4 linked regions of the Homo sapiens genome follow. Changing the gene in region 1 together with any one later gene gives a genetic interaction. Each region holds a gene or a part of one and is shown on either strand. Other genes may lie near its edges.

What was found.
Region 2: changes in HDAC6 (region 1) and PBRM1 together harm fitness more than expected from each alone (negative genetic interaction), as found in Homo sapiens cells (one large-scale study listed by BioGRID).
Region 3: changes in HDAC6 (region 1) and KDM5C together harm fitness more than expected from each alone (negative genetic interaction), as found in Homo sapiens cells (one large-scale study listed by BioGRID).
Region 4: changes in HDAC6 (region 1) and IGF1R together harm fitness more than expected from each alone (negative genetic interaction), as found in Homo sapiens cells (one large-scale study listed by BioGRID).

What each region holds. Positions count from the first base shown.
Region 1 is NC_000023.11:48,802,506-48,810,609, reverse strand, and holds part of HDAC6 (protein deacetylase HDAC6), read right to left. Parts: exon of another isoform or gene 8,059-8,104; intron 7,948-8,058; coding exon of another isoform or gene 7,918-7,947; coding exon 7,825-7,917; intron 7,740-7,824; coding exon 7,611-7,739; intron 7,483-7,610; coding exon 7,394-7,482; intron 5,173-7,393; coding exon 5,088-5,172; intron 4,980-5,087; coding exon 4,939-4,979; coding exon of another isoform or gene 4,935-4,938; exon of another isoform or gene 4,243-4,934; coding exon 4,146-4,242; exon of another isoform or gene 4,002-4,145; coding exon 3,904-4,001; exon of another isoform or gene 3,650-3,903; intron 2,578-3,649; coding exon 2,473-2,577; intron 2,353-2,472; coding exon 2,284-2,352; intron 1-2,283.
Region 2 is NC_000003.12:52,677,300-52,684,397, forward strand, and holds part of PBRM1 (protein polybromo-1), read right to left. Parts: exon of another isoform or gene 4,793-7,098; intron 4,522-4,792; exon of another isoform or gene 4,444-4,521; coding exon of another isoform or gene 4,396-4,443; intron 3,628-4,395; exon of another isoform or gene 3,564-3,627; coding exon of another isoform or gene 3,561-3,563; intron 2,428-3,560; coding exon of another isoform or gene 2,413-2,427; coding exon 2,275-2,412; intron 1,299-2,274; coding exon 1,201-1,298; intron 1-1,200. UniProt on the Homo sapiens protein: Involved in transcriptional activation and repression of select genes by chromatin remodeling (alteration of DNA-nucleosome topology). Required for the stability of the SWI/SNF chromatin remodeling complex SWI/SNF-B (PBAF).
Region 3 is NC_000023.11:53,218,708-53,224,447, forward strand, and holds part of KDM5C (lysine-specific demethylase 5C), read right to left. Parts: intron 2,210-5,740; coding exon 2,132-2,209; intron 1-2,131. UniProt on the Homo sapiens protein: Histone demethylase that specifically demethylates 'Lys-4' of histone H3, thereby playing a central role in histone code. Does not demethylate histone H3 'Lys-9', H3 'Lys-27', H3 'Lys-36', H3 'Lys-79' or H4 'Lys-20'.
Region 4 is NC_000015.10:98,905,935-98,914,038, forward strand, and holds part of IGF1R (insulin-like growth factor 1 receptor isoform 1 precursor), read left to right. Parts: intron 1-2,750; coding exon 2,751-2,965; intron 2,966-5,380; coding exon 5,381-5,507; intron 5,508-7,109; coding exon 7,110-7,348; intron 7,349-8,104. UniProt on the Homo sapiens protein: Receptor tyrosine kinase which mediates actions of insulin-like growth factor 1 (IGF1). Binds IGF1 with high affinity and IGF2 and insulin (INS) with a lower affinity. The activated IGF1R is involved in cell growth and survival control.

The sequences.
Region 1 (8,104 bases):
AAATAAATAAATAAATAATAAAAAAGAGAGAGACATAGAGGATCAACCCAGGAAGTCTAACATCTGACTAACAGAAGTCCTAGAAAGAGAACAGAGAAAACAAAGAAGAAATTATCAAAGATCTAATAGAAAATAATTTCCAAGAGTTTAAGAAAAGCATGAATCTTCAGATGTAAAATGTCTACCTACTATTAAACAGAGTGAAAAGGCCAGGGTAAAAGTTTAGAACATCAAGGCTAGGTACAGTGGCTCATGCCTGTAATCTCAGTGCTTTGAGAGGCTGCAGTGGGAGGACACTTGAGGTCAGGAGTTCGAGACCAGTCTGGGCAATATAGTGAGACCCTGTCTCTACAAATAATTTAAAAAATTAGCTGGGTGTGGTGGCACATGCCTGCAGTCCTAGCTACTTGGGAGGCTGAGGCAGGAGGATTGCTTGAGCCCAGGAGTTTGAGGTTACAGTGGGCTATGATCATGCTACTATACTCCAGCCTGGGTGACAGAGTGATACCCTGTCTAATAATTTAAAAAAAAAAAAAAAAGAACACCAAGATAACCTTGCAGAGAGGAAAGTAGATTACTTGGAAAGGAATGAAAAGCAGACACCTGTCAGGAACACTGAATGCTGCAAAATAATAAAGCAATGTCTAGAGAACAACCAACCTAAATTGGATTCTTCAGATCTTGGATAAGTGGATTCTCTGTAGTCAGCTAGGAAGAAGGCTAGATAAAACTACTACAGGTTGAGCATCCCTAATCTAGAAATCTGAAATCTGAAATGCTGTAAAATCCTAAACTTTTTTTTTTTTTTTAGATGGGGTCTCAGTCTATCACCCAGGCTGGAGTGCAGTGGTGCGATCTCAGCTCACTGCAACCTCTGCCTCCTGGGTTCAAGTGATTCTCCTGCCTCAGCCTCCTGAGTAGCTGGAAATACAGGTGTGTGCCACCACGCCTGGCTAATTTTTCTGTATTTTTGTAGAGACGGGGTTTCACCATGTTGGCCAAGCTGATCTTGAACTCCTGACCTCAGGTGATCCGCCTCGGCCTCCCAAAGTACTGGGATTACAGGAGTGAGCTACTTCACCCGGCCCTAAAATCCTAAACTTTTTGAAGGCCAACATGATGCTCAAAGGAAATGCTCATTGGGGTATTTCGGATTTTGGGTTTTCAGATTAAGGATGCTCAACCACTAAGTATAATATAAATATTTCAAAATCTGAAAAAATCTGAAATGTGAAATACTTCTGGTTCCAAGCACTTCATATAAGGGATACTCGACATGTACTTAGTAATGTCTCCTACTGACAAGGACTTGCTCAATCACTTTCTGCAGGAAGGGTAAGCTGGTCCCCTCCTGGAGGGAAGTCTGGCAGTGTATACCAGACTTTAAAGTATGCTGACTCTCTGGCCCAAGCAACCCACTGTTAGAAATTCATCCTACAGATAGACTCAGAGAAGTGCAGAATTACATATTTACTAGACTATTCACAGTAGAAGTGCCTGTAATAGCAAAAACTGGCAGGCATCTTAAAAGTCCTGGGGTTAAATAACCAGAGGTACAGTCATAAAATTGAATACTACAAAGAACGAGATACTTTAAGAGGTACTAACATGGAGAAATGTCCCAGATATGCTGTTAAATGAATAAAGCAAGTTGTCGAAGAACATGTGGAGAATTATTCCATTAGGCAGTGTGTTATTAATAATTATAACAATAATAATAAAAATTCAGACATCTATAGAGAAAATCTGTAAGGATATAACCTAAACTGTCAACACTTATTTTTGAGGTAATGGAAATTAGAGGAGACTCACTGCTTCAGACACTTCTGTATTATTTAATTTCTTTAAACAAATAGTTTGTTATTTATTTATTTATATTTGTTTTTTACTATCTACTGAAAGGATAAACAAACACTTTGAAGCATTATCCTAATCAGAAAAAATAAAGCAGTAATTTGAGGTTCACTCTAACCCAACGGTTAATCAGTGAATAAGATCTTCAAATATTTGTGGGTCAAATCCCGTCTCTCCCAGTTCTTCTCTGTGTGACCTCTTAACGTATAAGCCTCAGTCCCCCTATCTGTAAAATAGGGAACCCAACAGTCCCTGCCTCAGAGTGAAATTAGGAGAGATGGCAGACACACAAAAGTAGCACAGATCCTGATCCCAGGATAGGCCCCATGAATGTGAATGCCTTTTCCTCCTTCTGGACCCCTTCTGGCTGGGCCTGTAAGGGTGGGAGGTGGCTGGGAGTCTAGCACCTAGGTGGGAGTCGGGGTATACCTGGGGTCCTGGTCGAAGGTGAACTGTGTTCCTTGACCGTGGTGCACATCCCAATCTACGATAAGGACCCTAGGAGCAGCAGAGAGAGGGGACTCTGTGCAAGGAGATCAAGGTGAATCTGGGGGAAGAGCCCAGACCAGGACACCCCACCCCATGCCACCCCCATCACATCTGCCCTCTGTTGCTGACCTCCGGATGCGGTGTTTCTGTTGAGCATAGCGGGCTGCCACAGCCACGTGGTTGAACATGCAATAGCCATCCATAAGACTGTGCTGGGCGTGATGTCCAGGAGGCCTGGGCAAGACAAGGAAATAACAGCTTGGAGTATGTGAGGGGTCCTCCTCTGCAGAGACAGACTGTCCCCTGCTCTCTAATCCTGGACCACCAATTCCTTTAATGCTGATGCCTAAAAATCTGCCGGGAACTGAGTAATGGAGGCCCTCAAACTCTCACCCCCTGCCAATCTACCCCTCTGTCTCCAAAGGAGATTTGAAAATGTTCACTAAAATGATAAAGGCCGGGTGCGGTGGCTCAGGCCTGTAATCCCAGCACTTTGGGAGGCCGAGGTGGGTGGACCACGAGGTCAAGAGATCAAGACCATCCTGGCCAACACGGTGAAACCCCGTCTCTACTAAAAATACAAAAAATTAGCTGGGTGTGGTGGCGGGCGACTGTAGTCCCAGCTACTTGGGAGGCTGAGGCAGGAGAATCACTTGAACCTGGGAGGCAGAGGTTGCAGTGAGCCAAGATTGCATCACTGCACTCCAGCCTGGTGACAGAGCGAGACTCCGTCTCAAAATAAATAAATAAATAAAAATAAAAATAAAATGATCAACGCATTCATTCTCATACCCAGTCATTCTGCTGCAGGAACTTAGCCCACAACCTGTGTTTTAAAAAGGGTGAAGTAACATTTTTATTTTATGTTAGTGTAAAATAAAATTTTATTTTTATAAAGGTACTAGCATATTTGCTGTAGCATTTTTTTAAAACAGCAAATGACTGGGGAGAACCAAAATGCCCATTAGTCGGGGACTGATTAACATAGAGTGCATTTACACAATGGTGTTCTACCGGGCTCCAAGATACATACTGTTAGAGAAAGGTTTCCAAGATGTGTAAGTGAAAAGATGGTACGAAGGGAGTATGTCATGTTACTACCATTTGTGGTTAAAAACAGGGGAGGGAGGAGAAAGCTTTTGCATTTCATCAGTTCTGGGATGCCAATGATGATAAGATGTACCATGATTTTACATGCCAAAAACGAAGCAGAAAATACTGCCAATGGAATTCTGAGATGTCACTGTTTGTAAGATGCATCTGGATTTCAAGATGTTACAAATATGAAAAAATGTACACCTTAGAATCAATGAAATATGGTATTTATTTCTTGAATAAGACTTTGTGGGAGGACACATGAGTCAGTGGTTCCAATGACTACCTCCCATGAGAGGAGGCAGGTGTCTGGGTGACAAGGATGGGAGACAGATTTTTAATTATATTCTCTTTTTTACCTTTGGATTCTTGAATCACATGAATATATTACCCATATCAATACATTTTACACTTGAAGGAAGGACTTTAAAACAATGTAAAAAGTCAAATGCTGTAGAGTCCTACCTAATGATGGCCATGCCATTCCGGATCTCAGCCCCCAGGACCGCATCCACCAGCCTGAGGACAGAGCCTGAGGCCAGGCAGGCACAGGAGTATGAGTTCTGGAGAGACAGTGGGGAGCCAGAAAGGGAGTAAGGGAGAGAACAGCCCTATCCACTCAGCTGCTTCCCCCAGGGTGGGGTGGGCATAGGGATGGGGACCCCAAGATTGCCACCATTCCCTGCCCGCAGAGTTCTCATCCATACCGGATGCAGATAAACTGAGTCGTAGGTGTCTGCTAGGACACGGAGTTCTCCCTCATTCATGTACTGGGTTGTTTCCATCAGATCAATATATTCTAGGCTAGACACAGATGGGAGATGAGATTCAGGGCCCTGTCTCTTCCCCAACTGAGCTGTCCATACACCAACCCCCTGGTCAAATTAGGGCTTGGCTCCCCCAACTGTCAACCTGAAGGAATAGCCAGGATATAAGACACATTCTGTTTCTTCCCTAGCCCGCCTCAGTTCAGGTAATGTTCTCTGCTCCCCTGCAGTAGCCACACCAAATCCTACTTTCAGGCCTTTGGCCACACTGGTTCAGCTGTCTGTTCTTCCCTTCCCTCAGTCACCCTCTTCATCTGACTCACTCTTTTTCTCCTCTTAAAGTTCAGCTCAGATACCTGCTCTGGAAGCTAGCTTTCCTCAAGCCACATAGCACTAGGCCTCTAAATCTGGAAGCCCCTGGGGGAACCCCGATCACTCTGTCCACACATCCACCATCTATTCACACAATCAGATCATGATAACAGTAATAGCTCATCATGGGCTGATTATATATCAGGCCCTGTTCTAAGCACCTGACACACATCAAACTCTCCTGAGGAACTTATGTTTACTGGTCCCCTTGTTACAGGCGATGACACAGATTCAGAAAGGCTCAGCGACTTGCCCAAGGCTGGCTGCAGAGACCATGACATTGCTTCCCAAAGCGTTTAGCTTGCCCTGGTTTGTCCAGGGCAGGCTCCTCCCCATCCCTACAAGGCTCCCAAGCCTTCACCTGTGAACCAACATCAGCTCTTCCTTTTCAGCAAACCGGGCCTGGGGAGAGATGAGGAATAAAGTGGGGTAAAGGGTTAAGGCATGGGCTGCACCCAGGTCAGGTCAGCTCCCTGCCCTTCACCCAGAGTGTTGGCTTGGGGGCCTTACCTGAAAGGACACGCAGCGATCTAGGAGGCCCTCCTGGATCAGTTGCTCCTTGATGGCATGGAGCCGCTCAGGGCCTTCCGGGAAGCTGGGGAGATGGAGTCACAGTCACAGATGCATGAGGACACTGGGGAGCTCCACATCTGTTCTCTCCACATCTCCCCATCCACCCTTCCACAGCTGCTTACCCCAAAACTGTGGTGTCAGTCCTGCCTCCCATCAGCTCTGGTGTGTGACCCTCTCCTCACCACTGCCACTGCTATTACCATACCCTCCCGCCTGGGCTGTGGCGGCATCTCCTCGGCCTCCCTGCTTCGACCCTCGCCACCTCAACGGTCCTTTCTGTGCATAGCAGCTAGACACTGGTTAAAACCCTAATCAGTTCATGTCCCTTCGAGGCTCCCATCCCATTCTGAGTAAAAGCCAAAGTATTACCCATGCCCAGAAGGCCCTAAACAATCTGTCCTCCATCACCTCTCTGACCCCATCTCCTACCCCTCCCTCTTTCCTTTGCTTCGCTTCACCTACACTGGTCTCTTCCCTGGTTCTCAGTTGAACCAAATACTCTTCAGCCAGCCCTAGAACTTTACTCTAGCTGGCCCCCCCACCCCCGCCTAGAATACTCTTCCTCCAACTGTCTCCATGACTTACTCCTTCACCTCTTCAGATCCCTGCTCAAATAGTGAGGCCTTCCCTGACCAGCCTATTTAAAATTGAAGTCTCCTCCACTGTACTTTCTCCTACTATCCTCCCTTTACTGCTTCTTCATAACACTGCTCTTTCTACCACAGTGCATCATTTACTTTTTGTTTATTTATTGTCTGTCTTCCCCCTTTACCCTGAAGACACAGGCTTTTGTTTGTTTTGTTTACTGCTGTATCCCTAGCTCCTCAATAGATGGTAAATAGGTATTCCATAAAAGAAGTCTTTTTCCCATAGTAAGTTAGTCTTAGGTTGGGATAAGGGATATAGATATTAATTGGTAAACACACAAGTATGATAATTAGCAAACAATGTCATGGGCTAGGAAAATAAGATCAGGTATTGGGGTAGGGTTTGGCCAGGCAAAACCTTCTCTGAGAAAGTCTCATTGGGATGTGAAAGGCAGCTGGAAGAGTAGAAGACCGAAAAGAATCTCTGGGAAAGGGGTTGGTCAGGGTACAGACCAGAGGCAAGAGGGTGCCTGGCATGTTGGAAGAACAAGGGGAGTAGTGTGGGCGAGAAGGATTGGCTGATGAGGTCACAAAGTGATGTGGAGCCAGATCATGTGGAACCTTTGAGGCCAGGATGAAAAATTTGGACTTTACCTTGAGGGCAACAGTTTGCCCTTAAAGTACTTTTTTTTTTTTTATTTTTACTTTTTGAGACAGAGTTTTGCTCTTGTTGCCCAGGCTGGGGTGCAATGGCACAATCTCGGCTCACTGCAACCTCCGCCTCCCAGATCAAGCGATTCTCCTGCCTCAGCCTCCCAAGTAGCTAGGATTACAGGTGTGTGCCACCACGCCCAACTAATTTTTGTATTTTTAGTAGAGACAGTGTTTCATCGCGTTGGTCAGACCGGTCTCGAACTCCTGACCTCAAGTGATCCACCTGCCTTGGCCCCCCCAAAGTGCTGGGATTATAGGCGTGAGCCACCATGCCTGGCCTCCTTAAAGTATTTTAACAAAGACATCAACTCATACATATTTTTTTAGGTTGCTGCATGAACAGATAATAGAGGTGAGGTTGGAAGTAGGGGACCAGGGAGGAGGCCTCTGCAAGTCTAGGTGAGTGATGATGATGGTGGCAGTGGAGGTGGTGAGGAGAGGTCAGATGGTGAATATATTTTGAACATATAGCCAAAAGGATTTGCTGATTCTTTTTGAAAAGTAAAGCAAACGGGAGGTTTCATCCTTCTGTTTCAGTACAAACGTCTCTTCCTCTATAAAGGCTTCTGGGAAGCCCGGATACTAGTTTAGGATCCTCTATTATACACCCTTGAATCCCCTGGTCTTAAGTCTGTCTTCATTAAACACCTCATACTGCTGTTGGCTGTTTAATGATCTGCCCTCCTACTCATCAATCCGCTCCTAGAGAAGGACCCCTGTCTGTTGTTTGGTACATTTGTATCACCAACTCTTGGCACACAATAGGCACTCAATAAATGTTTGTTAGCTACATAAAAGAACCCTTTCAAGTGTGAGCCCTACCTCCCCAAATCATCTGCTTCCAGTATCCAGGCTGGGGTAAGAAAAGATTTATTCTTGCTAATGGGCTCTAAGTGTGTGTATTTTTGTGGTTTGGAGACAGCCTGGAGGACCCAGCCTCACCTGTCATCCCAGAGGCAATGGAATTCATTTAACTGCTCATCCAACACCAAGCCAGTGCCAGCCAGTGCTTCAGCCTCAAGGTTCAGATCCTGCAGAGGAAAAAAAAAAGGAGACACAGATCCATTTTAGGCCCTGAGTCAGAGGGAACTGTCCAGGGTGGGGAACCTTTGGGTTTTGATTGTCATACGAGGCTAAACTGCAGCCAGGCCCTGCTCACCATCCCTTGCAGTCCCACGATTAGGTCTTCTTCCATTGCTTGGCCGAGCTTCTTCATTTTGCCTTTCTTCTTTACCTCCGCTAGATTGGGGATAGAGCGGGGAACGGCTCCCTTTTTAATATTTCGCTTCTGTGAATCAGAGAGAAGGGTCAGAGTCCAGGGCATGACCAACTTGCTCCCTCTCCCCCTCATCAGGGCGGGTCTAGGGCCTCACCGAAGTGACACTGGAGTCCTGAGGGGGCGACTGGGGGTTCTGCCTACTTCTTCGCTGCCTGGTTGTGGTGGAATCCTGGCCGGTTGAGGTCATAGTTGAGGAGGCTTGGCCCCTGCCGCGGTTCTGGGGGTGGGGGGAGGAGCGTGGGTATGTGAGGGGGCTAGTGTGCCCTGAGGACCCCACCTCTCTGCCCTTTTCCAGGCTCCGCCCCCTCTATTAGATTCCATTCCTTACGCGATCTGATTCTCCACAGCCTTCCAAACTCCGCCTCTCTCAGGCC
Region 2 (7,098 bases), on another chromosome or scaffold:
GTGGCGGGATCTCAGCTCACTGCAACCTCTGCCTCCCAGGTTCAAGCAATTCTCCTGCCTCAGCCTCCCAAGTAGCTGGGATTACAGGCGCCCCACCACCATGCTCGGCTTTTTTTTTTTTTTTTTTTTTGAGATGGAGTTTCACTCTTGTCACCAAGGCTGGAGTGCAACGGTACGATCTCGGCTCACTGCAACCTCCACCTCCCGGGTTCAAGTGATTCTCCTGCCTCAGTCTCCCAAGTAGCTGGGATTACAGGCGCCCACCACCAAGCCTGGCTAATTTTTGTATTTTTAGTAGAGACGGGGTTTCACCACGTTGGCCAGGCTGGTCTCAAACTGCTGACCTCAGCTGATCCACCCGCCTTCGCCTCCCAAAGTGCTAGGATTACAGGAATGAGCCATTGCGCCCAGCCTTGCACCTGGCTAATTTTTGTATTTTTTAGTAGAGACAGGGTTTTGCCATGTTGGCCAGGCTGGTCTCGAACTCCTGGCCTCAGGTGATTTGCCCACCTATAGACCTCCCAAAGTGGTGGGATTACAGGCGTGAGCCACTGTGCCTGGTCAGTACTCTTTTTTAAATATTTATTTTTAGGCAAGCTCTTGCTCCATCACCCAGGTTGGAGTGCAGTGACACTCATGGCTTACTGCAGCCTCAAATTCCCAGGCTCAAACAATCCTACCACCCCAGCCTCCCTAGTAGCTGGGTCTATAGGTGAGCACCACCACACCTGGCTAATTTTTCAAAAAATTTTTTGTAGAGATGGGTCTCACTATGTTGCCCAGGCTGGTCTCAAATTCTTGGCCTCAAGAGATCTTTCCGCATAGGTCATTTTTTTTGTTTTTGTTTTTAAGAGACGGGGTCTCATTATGTTGCCCAGGCTGGTGTCATACTCCTTGGATCAAGCAATTCTCTTGCCTTAGTCTCCCATGTAGCTGGGATTACAAGTGCATGCTCCTGTGCCTGGCTCAAAAAATCAAGTAGCTGGGATTATAGGTGCATGTTACTGTGCCTGGCTCAACAGATTTTTAATTTAAAAAAAGCTTCACTACAGCTTGATTACTAAAGACTAAAGACTAAAATTGGACCCCAGTATCATTTAAGCCATTCCTGCCAACAAAAAGCTCAATTTCCAAACACTTTAATACACATGGACTCTGGACCAAATCCCCCGCAACTGTACTGATGTGCTTCGAACTCACCTTCGCTTTGGTGCCCTAATGAAGAGCTCACAGAGAAGTCTGCCCTGTTCATCCTTATAGTCTCGGATGGTATTATAGAGTTCATGGCACACGGCAATCTACACATTAGCAAAGGAGAAAAAAATCACTAAAAAAGTGAACAGAAAGCCAGTGTAGACATAAGAATTATTTTCTACTCTTCAATAAAAGGCAAGTAGAGAAGAAAAATGATGACTCTCAATATTACCAAACATGCTAAAGTCTGAAATATGCTGACAATATGTCTCCTTTCAAACAACTGAGTTGACTAACTTTTTGGTATCTTTCATCAGATTTATGCTCCTGGTGATTTTGTCTTCTAAACTATATCAGTTCATCACTTTCTTGCTTAAAGTCATCCAATTGAAGGGTTTTCTTCTTTGAAACTAAATCAGTTTATCACTCTCTTGCTTAAAGCCATCTGACAGAAGGGTTTATCACTTCACAGAGAATAAAATCTAAACTCCAAACATTGCTTGTGTGGGCCCTACATACTCTGAATGGGTGGAGCTTGCCAGTTTCCTTCTCCTTCCTGACCATCCCCTGCTCTGTAACCAAGACACACAAAACTCATCCCTGACCCAACCCCTCTGCACTGGTTCTGTCTGGAACTCTCTTCCAGCGAATTCAGGCCAAAACAGCCCAAATCACCCAAAATTTTCTTCTTAGCACTTATTACTAGCTAAGGATACATTATTCTTTATTCGTTTACTTGTTTACATTCTACTTCCCCCGCCTGGAATCTAAGTTCCATGTGAAAAATGGGCTTGTTTCCACATGGCTATATCCCAACCATGAGAACAGTGCTTGTCACATGATAGTCACACAGTTATTTGCTGAATTAATATATGATGTAACATACTGAAATTATTCATAAGATCACACTATTACTCTAAGACTTAGCTGAATACATAATGTTCATAAAAGAAAAGACTATTAATCAAGAGAATCTTAAAAAAGTGGAGATGCCTTGCATCGTAACAATTTTACCATTAAAGGGAAGATAGGGGAATTGTGGGAAGAGCAGGCAGAAACCATGTAATCCAAGTTACTCACAGGATCTACAGTTGGAAGATTGGAAAGTCTCCTCCTTTTCCTGCTTGGGCCTGGTGTTGACACAGAATGGTGCCCATCATCAAAGTCCCCGCTGACACTGCTGGAAGGGGAGGTAGCTCTTCTTCTCTTGGAACCCATGGAATCCAACTTCTTCTATAAGAAATAATCAGCCATGTTCTTACATTTAAATAGACTCTGTCACCAAGTCTTCAGCTGGACACCTGCTACCAAACTCCTGGCTCACTTAGGAGGATATTTTAACGTGTTGTAGTTTAACTAGCTATAAGTTTTTTTTTTTTTTTAAGCCCTGGACTTCCTTGTTTTAGTCTTTCACTTACCAGAATGCTATACTTCCAATTTTGATGGGACAAATTCAACAAAAGCATATTCATTTGTATATCAGCAATCTTGAATGACTCAACTTCTGGCTCCAAATTTGGCCTAGAGTTTCCCAACCTATATGTAGCAGTACATTAGTGTGCTGAAGGTATTAAGCCTTCAGCCCATGAGGCAGTCAGGCAGGCCTGGGGTACAGAGGCCCCAAGGTATCCACCTCTGGAGTCAGCACCTCATCTGCTTCTCTATGTGCCTTACAATTATGATCATTTGCTAGGTGGGCCATCATGTGGAAAAGAGCAAGAAGCAGAGCCCAGGACAAATGAGTAGTGCAAAAAGGTAAGGGGACAGAGGACAATTAACCTTCTAGCACTTTAGATGTACTCTAAAATTAAAACCCTGAAAATGAATGTTCTCCATTCATTAAAACAGGATCCACAAGACATATCCCTGGAAAACACTTAATGAGACTTGCTATACCTAGACAGAGGTACAAACTATCCTTTGAAACTCTTCTGTTAATTCAAACTAATCACCTTTTAGTGATATGACATACTCTAACTATAACACGTACTCTATTTAACTATAACAATTTTAACTATAACTCTATTTACAACACAAGAAATGCAACCACTGAATGATCTGCTACAGATAGTATATACCCAAGAAAGTCCTGCAATGCTTATATTGCAATACAATCTAACAATACTATCAAATAGTATATTGTGATTTGAAAGGCCTTTTTCTTTCTTTCTTTCTTTCTTTTTTAGGTGGAGTCTCGCTCTGTCACCAGGCTGGAGTACAGTGGCACGATCTCTGCTCACTGCAACCTCCCTCCACCTCCCAGTTTCAAGCGATTCTCCTGCCTCAGCCTCCAGAGTATCTGGGACTAAGGCGTGTGCCATCACACCCAGCTAATTTTTGTATTTTTAGTAGAGACGGGGTTTCACCATGTTGGCTAGGATGGTCCCAATCTCTTGACCTCGTGATCCGCCCGTCAAAGGCCTTTTTCTAAAGCTAAAAGAAAAAAAAAGATCCCAGTTTCACTCATCAACACTGAAGGTATTGATCCTTCAGCCCCTGAGGTAGTCAGGCAGGCCTGGGGTTCAGAGGCCCCAAGGTATTCACTTCTTGAGTCAGCACCTCATCTGCTTTTCCATGTGCCTTACAATTATGAGGAACCTCATAGAACTAGAGTACCTCATAATTGTAAGGCACATGGAAACACTGAATTTCAGGACACTACGACACCAGCAGCTGAATGATTAGAACAGGAGAACACTGGTTGCCAGCAGTATGGAAAGAAAGGTTGGGGATCTCCAGGAAACAGAAAGAAGGAGCAAAAGAATCACATTTGAAAATCCTGGTGAGCAATTAAGGAAAAAGAGAAGTCTCAGATCTCTTTTTCCAAACTAAAGTCCACATGGTGTTTAAAACAAAATCTACCACGATGATGTTCCTTACTCTAGGCTTCGGTTTGTTATACAGTATTATTAGTTTGAAGTTGGCTAAAAGTAGTTAAAATCGTCAAAAGGCTTAGCCAAAACTTAGCCAAGTTTTGCTGATTTTTGTTCATTTTATAAAAAGCTGATCAACAGGACTCAATTCATTAAGATAAATTAAGGACCAATCCCTTTTAAACAATCTATGACAAAGACACAAGTGAATTTGATGAACATAAGGAGGGAATCTTTGTGGAAAGGATAACAAAAATTTAAGAAAGGTGGAAGGAAAAAGTCAAGGAAGGACAGAAAAGGGAAAGGGTGTAGATAATCAGTAATTTACCAGCTTTACCAGAGCACAACCAGCGCCTCGAAAAGCCAGTCTCCTCATTATGTCTGAAAGCCAAGTGAAGCCAGTGGGAGAAGGAAGGGCTTTAGAAGTGCTGATTCAGTGTTAGTATATTCAAAACTGAAAAAGAAGAACAAGGCAGAGAAGGGGGAAATAGAAAAGAAGGGTCAGAAGGAGTAAAAATGAGTACGAATAGATAGAAAACATTCAAATAGAACTGCTAAAGAAAGATAAAGAGAACTGGAGAAAACAGGCATATCAGTTCTCTTGTACCTATCAAACAAACTGCTGCAAAGGCTCAGGCACTAACAGTACCTGACAGTTCTTCCATTTTAAAACCAAATGCTTTCATATGTTTAAAGATGTCTCATTGAGGTTCCCCTTTACTCACATTAGGAATGACTGTCAATTCCAGGAATGAGGCATGCCTGCCCAACTGCCCCCTAGTCAATAAGAGCAGAGTTCAATCACAGAGCTGGAATGGAGAGTGAATACATGTGGGAGGCTCACATGTGACACCAAGTGTTGGCAAGCTGGAACAAACCAAGAATGGCTCATGTGAGCAAAAGGTCTGGAAAACACCCTCCCCCACAAAAAAAAAATTCAGAGAAAGAACATTTATTTCCAAAAGTCCTATCTGCATTGGAGACACCATATAAAAATTTGACAAGGTTAAAAAAAAAAAAAAAAGGGCCAACCATTTTGGCAGGAGTTCAAAATTACTTTTATAAATAATCCACTGAAAATCAAATGACAAAAAAATACATTATCAGCATGTGTATGTCGTTCGGATGACACAATATCCCAATATCCTTGAATCATTAATTTACTTTGGTAAGATAAGAAAAAGTTTCAACTTAAGGATAATTTTCAAGTATTTTCTTATCCATGGGACACATTTTAAAATGTATTTTGAAAGTCTGACAAGAAGGGCAATGTTATAAGGTGGGAGAAACAACAGGACCTTTGCTCCTAAGACCAGAATAGGAGTCCTAAGTCTTCCACCTCTGATTATCAGCTTGATGTTGTCTGATTAGTTGATGTAACCTCTCAGATCTGTTTCATCTCTAAAATAAGAACGTAATGCCGGGAGTGGTGGGTCATGCCTGTAATCCCAGCACTTTGGAAGGCCGAGGCCAGTGCATCACTTGGAGTTCGAGACCAGACTGGCCAACGTGGTGAAACCCTGTCTCTACTAAAGAAAAATACAAAAATTTAGCTGGGTGCGGTGGCTCATGTCTGTAATCCCAGCGCTTTGGGAGGCTAAGGCGGATGGATCACCTGAGGTCAGGAGATCAAGACCATCCTGGCTAACACGGTGAAACCCCGTCTCCACTAAAAATACAAAAAAAATTGGCTGGGCTTGGTGGCACGCACCTGTAATCCCAGCTACTTGGGAGACTGAGGCAGGAGAATCGCTTGAACCCGGGAGGCGGAGGTTGCAGTGAGCCGAGATGGCACCACTGCACTCCACCCTGGACGTCAGAGCAAGACTCTGTCTCAAAAAAATAATAAAAAAAAAAATTAGCTGGCTGAGGCAGTGCATGCCTGTAAACCCAGTTACTTGGGAGGCTGAAGCATGAGAATTGCTTGAACCCAGGAGGCAGAGGTTGCAGCAAGCCGAGATCATACCACTGCACTCCAGTCTGGGTGACAGAGCGAGACCGTCTCAAGAAAAAAAAAAAAACAACATAAAGTGAAATCACTTCTGCATGTTCCCCAGGCACAGGAACAGCATATTCATTTTTGTAGACCTGTCTTACAGGATAGTATTTGGTATAGGTTATGTGCTCAGTTTATCTTTTAATAAATGTATTAAAAGTGCACTTAGGGCCAGGCACAGTGGCTCATGCCTGTAATCCCAGCAATTTAGGAGGCTGAGGTGGGCAGATCACCTGAGGTCAGGAGTTCAAGACCAGCCTGGCCAACACGGTGAAACCCCGTCTCTATCAAAAATACAAAAAATTATCTAGGCAAGGTGGTGGCATGCACCTGTAATCCCAGGCACTCGAGAGGGTGAGGCACGAGAATTGCTTGAACCAGAGAGGCAGAGATTGCAGTGAGCTGGGATTGCGCCACTGCACTCCAGGCTGGGGGACAGAGTAAGACTGTCTCCAAAAAAAACAAAAAAAAAGTGCACTTGAGACCTTCAAAAAAAAAAGTTTATTTGTATAGTTTAAAAGTCCTCAGCCAGGCACAGGGGCTCATATCTGTAGTCCCAGCACTTGGAGAGGCTGAGGCAGGATGACCGCTTGAGGCAGAGAGTTCAAGACCAGACTGGATAACATAGATTGATCTTTTCTCTACAAAAATTAAAATTAGCTGGGTGTGGTGCTGCACATCAGTAATCCCAGCTACTTGGGATGCTGAGGTGAGAGGACTGCTTGAGCCTAGGAGCACAAGGCTTCAGTGAGCCATGATCACTTTACTGAACTCCAGCCTGGGCAACAAAGTCAGACCTTGTCTCAAAAAAAAAAAAAAAAAAAAAAAAAAAATGCCTGTAAGCATCCCTTCAGCAATTTTGTCTTTCCATGAAGAGGAAAGACAGATTCCAGAGTTCAATGCCAAGTTTTAAAATGGCCTTGATTACAGTTACAAGTTCAAAAGTCTAACAATCAATAATTTATAGTGGACAGTTAAGAATACTTAATAATGTGCAACTGGGAGAATATCGACTTACTATAGACAAACAGTGTA
Region 3 (5,740 bases), 4.4 Mb from region 1:
TGGAACTATAGGCGCACGCCACCACGCCCGGCTAATTTTGTATTTTTTGTAGCAATGAAGTTTCACCATGTTACCAGGCTGGTCTCAAACTCCTAAGCTCAAGCAATCCATCCACTTCGGCCTCCCAAAGAGCTGGGATCACAGGCACAAGCCACTGCACCACTGCACCCAGCCACCTCTCTCTCATTTGTCACCTTCCAGTCAATCAGAGAAGCCCAAGGTCCCAATAGAGAGGGTCACAACTGCCAAAAGCTTTAGATATGTCCTCTAATCTCCCTGACAAGGTCATGTGAGTATTATCATCTCCTATACAGATGAGGAAACAGAGGCTCAGAGGAGTTAGGACACACAGCAAGCATCAAGATATTTTGGTGCCAAATAATTTGAGCTTTGGCTCTCCCTCTGCTACTGATTTGCTATGCTGCCTTGAGCAAATCAGTTCCACTGTGGACTCCTTTTTCCTTTTACTAATAATTATAAAAGGAAAATAACTGCACAGTCCACTTACCCCAGAGGGGTAGACTTAATGAGGGGACCAGTGAAGATCCTCTGCAGATTTCAGAATTATATCTAAGCTCTAGGCATGTTTCAGAGAAAGCAAGCTCCAAAAAGGCACATGCACCTCCTTATGTACCACCAAACTTGTTCCATGGTGGCTAAAGGGTGAAAGTGCATGCTATAACTATAGACAGAATGGCCTAGAACTAAGAGATGGTATATCAGAGTAGCACTAGCACCTGGCCAACCCAGGACCCAATGTGGGCCAAGGAGACTAGAAACAAGATATGTATGATGCTTCCCTGAAATCTCAGTAACCAAGAAGGACTCCCATAGGCCCCAAGTCTACAACCTCCTCACTCCAGTCAGAGAGCCTGGTTCTTGGAAGAACTAGATAGTCATTACCATTCACTACCTTGCCCTGATCCCATTAGGGGGAACAAAGACAGCTCTTTCCATTTCATAGTTGAGAAAAACTAAGGTCTATTTGTAGAAAGAAACAACCTACAGTTCCTTGGCTGTGAGAACTCTCAAAGGGCAAGGAAGTGCTCCTTCAACCTCAGCCCCTTAGCTTTCTGAAGTTGGCCTCATCCCTGCTCCTTCTTATTAGTCAGCACTCCCTCTACAGAAAACCTGCCCTTGTGTCATGCTAGGCAACATCTTGCCCAAGCTGTACCCCTATAAACCTGACAAGATATATTTTTCTTTTCTGAGATGGGGTCTTGCTATGTTGCCCAAACTGGTCTTGAACTCCTGAGCTCAAGCAATCCTCCCACCTTAGCTTCCCAAAATGTTAATAGTGCCGAGGCTGAGGAACTCTGGTCTAGAACACAAGTGAACTTTTAGGGTATAAGTATTCAGCTGGGCCTGGGCCTAATGCCCCACCCCTTGGACATCTATTAAGATTTGTGGGTACATAATAATGGGGGAGGGAGTGGCAACATATGCCTAACCTAGAGCTGCCATGGAAAACTCCAGGATCTTACGTGGAACTGGCTTTAGGGAACCTAATCTCACTACCCCAGGGCATTCTCAAGCAGGAAAAACCCCACCTGTCCATGAAAAGGGCCTGGACTTCCTGTACAGAACAAAAGGGAGAAGGAAAATCCTACCTGCCTGACCCCTGGCCAAGTCTCTAACCATTCCAGCCTCCACAGAGCCCAGTTCTTGTGTTGTTCTGCCCATCTACCCAAACTCCCACCTTACCAAGCACCCATGGAAGCAAAGTAGAAAGCACAGGGCTGTGGATGAATTGGATATATGAAGCCACATTCAGCTGGCCAAGGAAGAAGGGGTATCAGCCAGTTCCATAATTCCTTTTTGTTGACTCAGCTAGGGTAGGCTAGTTTACAGGGGAGTTTCAGAAGTAGCAAACCTTTGTGAGAAAGGGATATATGTCCCCAGCCTTTGGGCTATCAAATCACAAATGCTAAATGCCCCTGGCTCTTGGTTATATTTAGAGCTCTAAAGCTTCTTCCACGCCCTGGGCACACTAAAGTAATGCAATTTCACAGAAGAGAGAATAAAGGCCTAGCTAGGTAAAGTACCTCAGCCAGAGAAACTATAAGGGAAGTGGGATTAGAACTCAGGTATACATTCTCCCAACCCCACCACCAGCTCCTAGTCTTCTCACCTCTAGCTCATTCAGCCTCTGGATTCGGGGGGTAAACCTGAAGTTGTCCACTTCCACAGCAAAGGGTGGCTGCCAGTCCTGAGAGGGTAGAGAGGGGAAAGGGACTTGAGTTATCTCAGCATAGTGTAAGACCGGAAGTCACCAAAAGCAGCTCGGAATCCCACTGGCACCTTCCCAAACCTCTAGCCACTCCAGACCCTTTAACCTGCAAACATCCTACCCAACCACCCACCCCCACCTCCCCCCAGAACTCACAAGAGTCTAGCAGCCCCTCAAGTCTGCACCCAAGGCCCCATGCACATGCCCTAGGAAACTTCTCCTGAGTCCCACCCAACAGTACAGTGCCAGGATTTCAAGAAATTAAGAGATGGAGCCTCTGTTTTGTTGACCCTAAACCTTCTCCACACCCACATTAATTCCTTATCCCCTAGGCACGTGCTGTAGGACACACAGGCCTGGGAGTACTGGAAAGCACACAGGATCTAGAGTCAGAAGATATGGGTTCATGTTCTAGATCCGCTACTTACTAGCTATGAGATTTTAGCTTTCTGAACCTGTTTTCTCATCTGTGAGGTGGGAATATGAACTCTAGCCCTGGCTTCCTTGCCAGACCAATATGGAAAATTAAAACTAGTTTTCAAATGAAAATGTTATTCAAAGGAGTCACCGTTATGACCTGACATCTAAGGCTGACCACACCTCACAATACACATGCAGGGTAGCTCAGGTCCGATTGTGGCAGGACGTAAAGGTTTGGGCCTTTAATGTTTGTTCTCTCAGTTTAAAGGGCCTGAGATAGACACTGCAGGGAAGAGCAAGGAACAGGGAGCAAGTATGTGTATCACTCACCCAGTCTGGAAGGCTTCCTGTAGATCCTCTCTCATACACCTGCCTGGTACAGGAAGAGGCAGGGGAGGAAGCCCCAGGGGGTGGGGGTAAGTGCTGGGATGCCTGACTGTGGTGGCAAAGAATGGGAGGATTTGGGGAGGGAAGTCAGGGAAAGATCATGAAAGTGGGAGACACTCTGCTCTGCCAAGTTGGAGCTTGCTGTGTCCTGCCCAAAGGTCAGCTGTGAAGAACCCCCTCTCCAACACCCCTTTCCAACCTCCTATGCAGACCTCTCCTTCCCAGAGCCCTGGCTCCTGCTGGGGTGGTGAAATCAACCTAAAGTAACCTAAACCAATGTTCTCATTTTATAAATGGGGAAAGTGAGGCTCAGAGAAAAAAAGTGAAATTTCCAAAATTACATGCTGAGTTAGTGGTGGGGCCAAGAACCCACGTCTTCTGACCTCTGATCCAAGGCCTTTGCACTACACCAGACATCAATGTTCATACATACATGCATACACGTGGGCGGGGGGGAGAGACAGTGAAAGAGAAGAAAAACTGTTGACCTCTTCTGCACACACACTTTTAGAAAATGGGCTAGAGGACTCATATTTTGCATGCATACACAGACCACACTCCCCTGCCCCTACCAGCCAAAGCAGGTGGCAAACATCTGGGGCTCAGTAAGCAGGGACAAAAAAAAAAAAAAACAGGCAGGCCAAAATGGTATGGCTCAAATCCAGACAAGCTCCCCATGCCCTCTTGCCTCTCATCAGGATAGGGCACTCCCCTCAGCACAGGTAACCCAGCTAAAAAGGTGCTCAAACCCAAAACTCCGGGCACCCTTCTTTCCTGCTGAATCAAGTTCTAGACAATCAGTGCAACATCAAGCACCTGACAGGAAATGGCAGCCCTGGAATGCTACGGCAGGAGCCATGGATGCAACAGATACCTGGGAAGGCCCTGCAAACCGCCTGCCTTCATCTCCAGACTACTGTATGCCAAATGTATGTTGGTATTACTGGGATGTGGTGATAAAAAAAAGGCTGGCTACCTGATGAAGAAAGCAAGATCCTTCCAAACTCCACTGGGTCTACTCAGGGTACCCACACTCTCCTCCCACCCATCTTTCCCAAGCGTAGCAGTCACCTGCCCAGCAATTCAGGCCCCAAACCATCCTTCCTCCAGCAAACCTCCAATTCCCAGGTACCCACCCATATACAGGTTCCCACCCTGGGCCCAAGCATCACTTGAGCGAGTACTTCAAACTTCAACCAGAAGAAGGCCAGCTGCCTAAAGGTGGCCTAGGAGCTGCCATAGAGAAGGAAAAAACAAAACCAAACCAGAGAGCCAGGTATCCTGGATTAGAGAGAAGCACACTGTTGAGCAGTGAAAAGGACGGCCTCCTGCTGGCCATGCACACCTGGGACATGTCACTCTTCCCCTTCCTGATGCCCCAAAGCAGGGTAACAACACCTACACAAGGCCAGCCTGCCTAAGTCAGTCCAAGATAGAAAAAAGGAATTCAGGCCTCAACTACCCCCTACGTCAGCTATGCCTCTTTTTCCCACAGGCTTGCCCAACCACTTCAGGGAGTGCCTCCTTGAGGCTGCCCAGGACTCCTGCCTCTCCCTTCCACTAGCCTTCCTGACCCTCTACCCACTGCCACTCCCTCACCATGGACAAGGATACCTCAGAAATCTGTGGCCAGACTCCAAGAAGGAAGAAATTCGCTTACCCAACACCTCCTAGAGGATCTATCTGAAACCATCCTAGATCTGTGGCTGAGCACCAGAAAGCACCAAGTTGGATAAGGAGGCCTGTGGTGCCCTCCTCAGGTGGGAATGAAGCTTCCTATTCCATTTCAGCCAGGAGACACCCACTCAAAAACACCCTTTTCCAGCAAAGCTCAATTTCTGCCCTTGGAATCCCAACTGATCACTGAACATTATCATCACTTTTCCACCATATCAGCAAGGCAGCAGCTTGCCCTAGCCCTTGGGAGACTTCTAGCCTGAAGCCAGGCCTAGGAGGAAAGCTATGGCCTTTGTTGCTGACCCCTGGCAATCATGTTCCAAAAGGGACAGAATTCCATGGCTCCATTCTGTTCTGCGGGCCCAAGAGTGCCCTATCCTCTGGGATCTCCTACATCCTGGACCAGAGGAGAGTAGAAATCTTCTGAGAAGGACTCACACCCCACCACCAAGCTGACCGGTCCAAACATCTCCATAGGAAGTCAAGTCTGCGGGATGATGTGCAGAAAAGGCCTTGACATTGCCTTCAACGAGGAAAAGAAGAGGACAATTCCCTGAACCCACCTCAAGGGAGACAGAGCAATCCCTGTGAGACTGATTTCCTGACTGGTCCAGCAGGCCAGGATATTATCATAGATGAATTGGCCTGGCAAGGTATGAGTAAATATGAGTCAACCTACATAGGAATAAACCAATGACCACATCAAACACCCTCACAGTCACAATAATTACCACTTATCTAGTGCGTACTACATACAGACGCTACCTAGTTTAATTCAATCCTCTAAATAACCATTTCTGGGATCCATTTCACGGGCTCAGAGAGATTACTTCTACTTTCCCAAGGTCACACAGCTGCTCAGCTTCAAAGTGGAGTTTTGAACTCAAGTCTGTCTCCCTTCAGGACTGCGATCTTTCTATTAATACTATACTATGCTGCCTGCCTTAAAGGAAGTGATGACAACAGATTGGAGAAACGTCTTATTTTTACAGCCTCGACCTAGGTGGCCCGGGCTAAGAGATGTGC
Region 4 (8,104 bases), on another chromosome or scaffold:
TTGACAGGCAGCTCATGAATGGCTTGATTATTATTTTGACAAGGGTTTTATTTTTATTTTTCTTTAGCTTCCACAGGCTCCATAATGCCTGGGTTTTATTGATATTGGTATCCTGGCTCCCAGCCTCTTCAATGATTGTAAAAAATGTTTGTGTTTACTGTAAAAAGATAATCTTGCTTTTCAAAGTGATTAGTCAAATACACAGAATTTCAGTGTGCCTGCCATTCATTTGTCAAATTCCTGGTTTATAATTCATGCTTCCTCCCGTGGGGGAGAAGAATGTTTTGTTCAGAAGGTATTTTTGGTGTGGTTCCGTTCCCTGCTAGTGAAATTAGTTTATGAAAAGAGGCCTGGTTCTGGGTGTAGATGGAAGTTTGGCCTGATTAATTGGTCCTTACCGGCAGCCCAGAGGTTTCTTCATCAACAAGGAGATTTTGTCCTGTAACTAACTCAGGTACCTGGAAGCAGCCCGACATTTGGGGGTGCATCGCTGCAGTCTCCTTTGGAGCTGGAGAAACCTATGAGCAAGAATGGGCTTATGACACATCCATTTCCACTCCATCCCTCCTTCCGTTGTATGACTGCATGGAGCCCCTCTGACCTCCAGCAGTGTCACCTGCAGCCTGGTAGTGAGAAACAGCAGGTATGGATGGGGTCTACCCCCAGCAACAGTAGCGCCAGCTGGGCCATATCCTGGCACTGCTCCCCAGGAAACACACCTTGTGTTGCATTGACCAGATCTGGGATCATTTGGACAATGTCTTATGCTGCTTTTCCAGGATAGCTGTGTGTTCAGGAGGGAGCCCTTACTGAAAGGAAAGAACTGTTGACTTACAAGTTTTTGCTACCGGTTTGGTGGTCACTAATGTGTCCAGAGGCCTGAAGATGGGCGTGTGAGGAGCCTGACTTAGCTTCAGAGGCTCTGTCTTTCGACTCACTTGTGTGCTCACTGCACCCCTGTGCTGGCAGGACTCCAACCTCCACCCCCAGCACTTGTGTGGACAGAGAGCCCAGTGCTCAGGAAAGGGTTGGGCTTCAGGCTTGTGATGCAGATTCCGTGGTGGCTCTGTGACTCCTTCTGGTCGTTCTTAAAGTAGACAGGGAGCTTAGATGTCACCTGTGCATTCCCCTTGTTGTCCTACGAGTGAGTAAACAGGGCTACAGATAGCACTAAGGGATCTGCGCATGGCTGTGCAGCTCATTCATGGCATTTCTGGTCCTGGGTCCCAGTCTCTGAACTCCTTCCTGGTCTGACGTCCCTTTGTGAATGTTCAGGAAAATGTCACAGGGCTGCTTGGCAGCATTGTAACCATAATTTGTGCTTTACTGTAAATGAGAATCAGGCTGAGGATTGACCAGCTGGTTAGAGGTCCTGGTTTGGGTGTAAATGAAGACCCTCACCAGATGCAGAGAGATCCCCAATGGACATAGCCTCCAGGGCAGACGAAGCCTTAGGGGTTCTGTTTTGTCCTGGCTACGCTGGCTCTGCAGGGAGGGCTGGGGTTCTTTCTCCTTTGTGTGTTTATACATTAGATCTGTGAGTGGATCTTAGAAGTCACTCAAAGTACTGCACTGATTCCCAAACTTAGTAAGAAGCAGAGCAGGAAGAGGAGAAGAAGGATTCACGGTCCATGGGGATCAGGCCCATCAGCACAGAGGACTCAGAAGTCAACCCTGGCATTGTCTGCTGCCTTCCTGGGGAAGCCAGAGAGAAAGGCCCACTGCGGGGATCTTTCTCTAGACCTAAGCCGTAGCTGTCTGCTTTCTTGCCTCTCCAGGGATGGACTTGTCCTGCCACCTGGGTAGCCAGATAGAACGGCTTCCTGTGCTGGTTGGATCTGCTACTCGTGTGCACACCCTCTGGGGCAGAAGCCACGTCTGGTTTGGTGGGCTTTGGTCCTCCACCACCTCACTGGAACTCAGCCTCTCCTAGATTGCTGGTTCTCCACGTGTGGTCCAGGGACCACAGCAGGGGTCAGCACCACCTGGGATTTGTGATAAATGCAGATTCTTTGCCCACCCCAGCTGAATCAGAAGCTCTGGGGGTGGGGCCCAGCCCTTTGCAAACAAGCTTTGTGCACACTGAACTTGGAGAACCACTGTGTTGGACTCCGAGTCCTCTTGCCTGGATGAGAGGCCCAAGAGCACTGCATGTTAGTGGCTCTTCCTCCTCCCCCACACCTCCAGGGACTGGAGCTGGGGCTGCTCAGAATGAAAGATGAATGGGGGAGGGAGAAGGCCCAGGGTTGACCCCCCACAAGCTTGTCTCCCTGTCTCATGCTGTCTCCTATCCCATCATGCTGCTGATTGGGCAGGATTTACTTCCATGGATAATGGGAGACTTTAGAGCAAAGTGTACGCTGTTCCGATTGGGTAGCAGAGCATGTCTGTTCTCTCATGGACTGCTTTCAAGCACGTTGTACATACTTGGCTGAGAAAAATAACCAAAGGCATTTCTTGGGAATGATTCTAGTAACATCCTCTGGTACAAGAAGCATTATTTGATGGTAATAGTGGTCATAGAATTAATTAGCATCTTACCGATTTTGATATGTTATCCTTGAATCATGTTGCTGCCATTGTTAACAGCAACTGTCTGTTCTCCTATAGTGTTAATAACTAAATCTCTTATTGGCAAAGGAAATGTATTGTGGAGCAGGTGGCAAAGAGGACCTGTGTTACGTGGCCAGCAGGCTAGAGGGGACTGTGGCCAAGGGCAGGTGCGCTAACATCGATTTCTGTGCTTCTAGGAATTACTCCTTCTACGTCCTCGACAACCAGAACTTGCAGCAACTGTGGGACTGGGACCACCGCAACCTGACCATCAAAGCAGGGAAAATGTACTTTGCTTTCAATCCCAAATTATGTGTTTCCGAAATTTACCGCATGGAGGAAGTGACGGGGACTAAAGGGCGCCAAAGCAAAGGGGACATAAACACCAGGAACAACGGGGAGAGAGCCTCCTGTGAGTGACAGCATCCAAAACACCGTGGGCCCAACCATCATGATAACAGCAGACCCTCCTCCCATGTGTGATGGCAGCTTTCCTCTGCGGCCCCTCCTGGTTTCACATGGGGGACCACTAGACCATCTTAACTAGCACTTTGCTCCTACTTATATGTCATCACAATCAGTAGTGGGCAGATACGTGATGTATTCGTATTTATAAATTCTGTACATCTCTGTGAGTGTGTGAAACACTTATAAGTAGGTTCTCAAACTTTAAAGTGCTGCTTACAGAATGCACAGTTAAATGTCCTTTTATACACAGGTGCACAGTTAGATATTTCTCTTTCTTTTTTCTTTTCTTTTTTTTCTTTTTTTTTCTTTTTTTTTTTTTTTTTTGAGATGGAGTCTCACTCTGTCACCCAGGCTGGGGTGCAGTGGCATGATCTTGGCTCACTGTAACCTCCACCTCGGTTCAAGCGGTTCTCATGCCTCAGCCTCCCGAGCAGCTGAGATTACAGACACCTGCCACCATGCCCAGCTAATTTTTGGATTTTTAGTAGAGACGGGATTTCATCATGTTGGCCAGGCTGGCCTCAAACTCCTGACCTCAAATGATCCACGTGCCTCAGCCTCCCAAAGTGCTGGGATTACAGGCTTGAGCCACCATGCCCTGTCCGATTATTTTTCAGGGAAGAGCCAGTGTGCTTCAGCCCTATGAGCTCTACCCTTCTGCTCCCACAGAAGGGAAGCACAGGCCTGTGGGGTGGAGGGGGCTCTGCCCTAAGCGCAGCCCCTGTGGGCCACGGGTTTCCTGTCCCTTACACTCGGCCGCCTTGTTTCTCCCACCCCAACATGAAAAAGATGGAGTGAGCCTGCAGCCCTGAGTTGATATTGCTTTTTAAATTGAGAACAATATAATTACAGCCTTGTACTGTTTATAAAACTTTAAGGTCTCATATCAGAGATACAGCAGTGCCTTTCTCATCTAACCCTGTGTAGAATACGGCTGTTGAGAATGGCGTGGCTCTCTGGCTGGATAGGGTTATAAAAGTAAATCGTCTTTTCACCTTTGGCTTTTAATAAGGGAAGGGTATTAGAAAAAAAGTAATTTGTATGATGAAGGGTGATTTGTGCGTGTGTGCAGACAGACACACATGCAGGGAGGCAAATCAGAACCGATGCGTGTTTGGCTTTGGCTTGTTTCGCTGGTGTCTGGATTTACCTGGCGACACTTGTTGCTCTGGGGGATCTTAGAGGGAAGCACGCTGACTGACCTAGGGCTGAACAGCAGGCTGACGACCAGCGCCGCCTCCCGCCCCCTGCTCACTCTATCCCTGCAAAGCCCCTGCCTTGCTCCCTGTTCAGATCATAGTAAAATCGGATGTATCCGAGTATTTCAGAGTGCTTGTCTCCTTAGAGTCAGCCAGTCTGACCTGTCAGATCATAATACATAGTAGCCGTTTATTTTCTTTTGAAAGCAAAATCATGGTTTCCTCTCTAAATAACACTTCAGCAGGAACTGTGACATTTCCCAATCTCAGTTGCGCACATTTTGTCCTAAAGACTTCTTAGCTCTTTTACTGTCTTCAGTCCCTCTGCTTCACCTCTTGAGTGTGTAGTGGGATTCAGGCAGATAAGAGGGCGAAAGGACAATTCGTCAGAGAGCTCTGGGTCTCCATGAGGGTGGGCAGTCATCAGTCTTTCCCTGGTCCTTATCGTAGTTTGAATTTGGTCCAAGGAATAAGAGAGACACTTGGCACAGCTTCCCTGCCATACCCGCCAGCCAGGCTACTTCCCATAGAGCACGTTAGGCTTGGCCAAGTGAGATCTTCTTGTCAGTGCTTAATCCAGCCTCCCGTTGTTTGTCAGCCCTAGCTGGAGGCCTCACAGGAGTTCCTGTGTCCTTCCAGTTTGATACCAAGTTTAGACCAAGAAAAGTTCCTTTCTGTGGCACACCTGTAGTCTCTTACCTGTCTTTGGTGGTTGTACACGAACAGGCAGATATCCACAACTGCAGAACAAGTGTCATCGTCTCTCTTAAGAAGTTTCAGGGCAGCCTAAAGGCTCACCTTCACCCTACCAGGCCCCCTTTCATAGCCAGGATCTTAGGGATGGAGAAGAAAGATAAGTTCACCTCGTTCACTGAAGTCGCCCCTTGTTTTCAGGTTAGGAAACCCAGGTTCATGTCCAAGTCCCTGGGCAAGTAGCCAGCGTAACTGATTGACCTAAAACAAAGGATGGAGCCCTTGGAGCTCTGCATAGTGAAATGTATGATTTCTTAGTGGAAAACGAGAAAGCCACTGAGGAAGCCCAGAAGGGAACTTAGCATATACAGCCAGCTTTGGGGAAGGGGGAAGCAGTGCCAAGCAAGACAGGTGCTTTTCAGAGACACATGAATCTCTGTCACTCACGGATGTACTCTTTGCCCCAGGTGAAAGTGACGTCCTGCATTTCACCTCCACCACCACGTCGAAGAATCGCATCATCATAACCTGGCACCGGTACCGGCCCCCTGACTACAGGGATCTCATCAGCTTCACCGTTTACTACAAGGAAGCGTGAGTTTCTGCTTTGGGTGATGCCATTCTGTTGACAGGGCTACGAATGGGAGAGGCCAGTCTTTCGATCCTTGAATGGGCTGGCTGAATACAGGGGGTCAGCAGAGTCCCCAGGGAGAGCCACGCCAAACATCCCTACTTCATCCTCATGCACCCTCTCGGGCTGTCCCTGTGATGTCAGTCACAGCCAGTGACAGCCATGATTGGGAAAGTGTTAGCTCGAGGCCTGTCATTCTTTAGTGAGTGATTAGAGGTGTTTGAATAAAATAAACCCAAAATGGGGAAAGCTTGCTTTTTCCAGAATTAGGTCAGTCCAGACTCATGAACGATGATGGGGGACTTCACTGAAATATCGTTTCAGCCTCCTTACCTACTAGGCCTACTCCAGGAACACCCTGCAGGCACGTGGCTCTTTTGTATCATCTTATTCCTGTCTCTCTCTCTGTGTGCCTCTCCCAAGCTGTGGCCCTCTGCTCTAGGTCATGAGCCTTCCAAACAAGCGAAGAAAAGTGGAGAGAGAACAACCTTCATGTCTTGAGCCTTTTGTGACTTCTCCTAGACTCTGTTGGGAGCTTTTCCTGTGTGATCACATGACATTCCCCCATCTAAGCAGCCGAGGCTTATTCCTCCCGACTGCAGCCCTCTTTGATCTCCCTCTTCCTTCCTTTGCCTTCTATATCCAGGTGGCTACCCCGGTCTACTTAGCCATCCCCCTTACCCAGGTCCCATGTTAATCCCATAGTTCTCTCTCCCAGATGTGTGGCTTCCAAAGAGCAGCAACCAGAGGCACCTTATGACAGCATCTTGTACTCTTTCCTCCTGCCAGAGCTGGGGTCCTATGAATGAGAAATTGGGTACTTAGGATTACTAGGCTTTCAGAGTTTGTACACAGGGGAGCCCCTCATGATCTCCCATCCCATGACAGCAGACGGTGTTTTGTTCATGTTTGTTTCAGAAGCCAGCGGCCAGCAGCTGTCCAGCCCTTTTAGCTGATAAATATAAAATACCTACCCAACCATGCATCTGTGCGAAGTACTATATTCTCTGATAGTCACACCAGTGCTTTGGCAATGTCAGCTGGTAATTTCACTGAGGACTTGATGCTGGTTTCTAAGGCAATCTGGAAACTAAATATTTGAATATTATAAGATGCTTAAGCATCAGAATTGTTTATGAGCAATCTGAATTTTAGAAGCTACTTCTGTTTGTCTGTAGGAAAGTCATTTTTCTCCAACAGTTACCTTCTTTCAATATCTGATATTTGCATTAACTGACTATGCTTGTTTTTTTCTTGATGAAAAAATGCTGCAATCAGAAGAGAGAAAAATAGTTTTTGCATATGTTCTTAAGGAATAGTAACTATTGAATCCCAGTAACTGTTGAAGTGGCTCTTCCTGAGGCAGACCATTCAATTCTGTAATGCCCGACTGGGGAAGCCCAGAGTCCAGTCACTTCATTTCTTCTTCTATAAAAGTCTAATTGATTATTTGTTTATTTAGACCTCCCATTATAGAAAGTGTGACATGCTGGGCCTCTGGGGAAGATTTTTGAGGGTTTTGATGTCAGAGCCCCGAACTTTCTCTGAACTTAATTGTCTTTCAGACCCTTTAAGAATGTCACAGAGTATGATGGGCAGGATGCCTGCGGCTCCAACAGCTGGAACATGGTGGACGTGGACCTCCCGCCCAACAAGGACGTGGAGCCCGGCATCTTACTACATGGGCTGAAGCCCTGGACTCAGTACGCCGTTTACGTCAAGGCTGTGACCCTCACCATGGTGGAGAACGACCATATCCGTGGGGCCAAGAGTGAGATCTTGTACATTCGCACCAATGCTTCAGGTATCCATGCCTAGACAAGCCCCCAGCATCCACACTTCTTCGCAAGCTCACTGGCCTTGCTTGTACCAGGTGTCATTGTAGGGTTAGCAGTGAGCTATGCCTGTTGTCTTTCTTGTCAATAGGTAATACTGTGTCATATTCATTTCCCCACTGCTAACACATTAGGCTCTTCTGTGCCATTTTCTGGCCTCGGTACTATCTTCCATCATCTCCTGCTTTGTGCCTGTGAGCCCAGGTCCTCCAGGGTGCTGGGCTGGTTTCATTGGAAGGCCCAGCCTGGAAACAGCCGTCTTCAGCTGCCCTTGTTTCTTGTTTGTTTTGATGTTCAATCCTCCAGGAACTGAAACCATGCTGATCTGTGTTCCACTTAATTCATGTAGCTCACTGGTTTTCCATCTTCATTCTGGAGCTTATAGAGTTCCAAAGAGGTCAACAAAAGTTGAAAGCCTGCAGATGTAGTATGTTGTGGATATTCAGAGTATTCACTGATGATGAGGTTCCTCCTTCCTTTATCTTTAGGTTCTAAACCATCTCATTTCTCAACTCCAGATCTGGAAACAGTAAAAGCAAACGTTAATAGTTTCCAGTATATAAAAACTAGTTTAGAAGTAGGAAAATCCACTTCAGTTTTAAAGACACTGATTGTTTTAGTGTATTGGAGCTTCTATCACAAAAAAACAGTGTAGCCTGGGTGGCTTATAAGCAATAGAAATGTATTTCTCACAGTTCCAGAAGCCACAAAGTGCAAGATCAAGG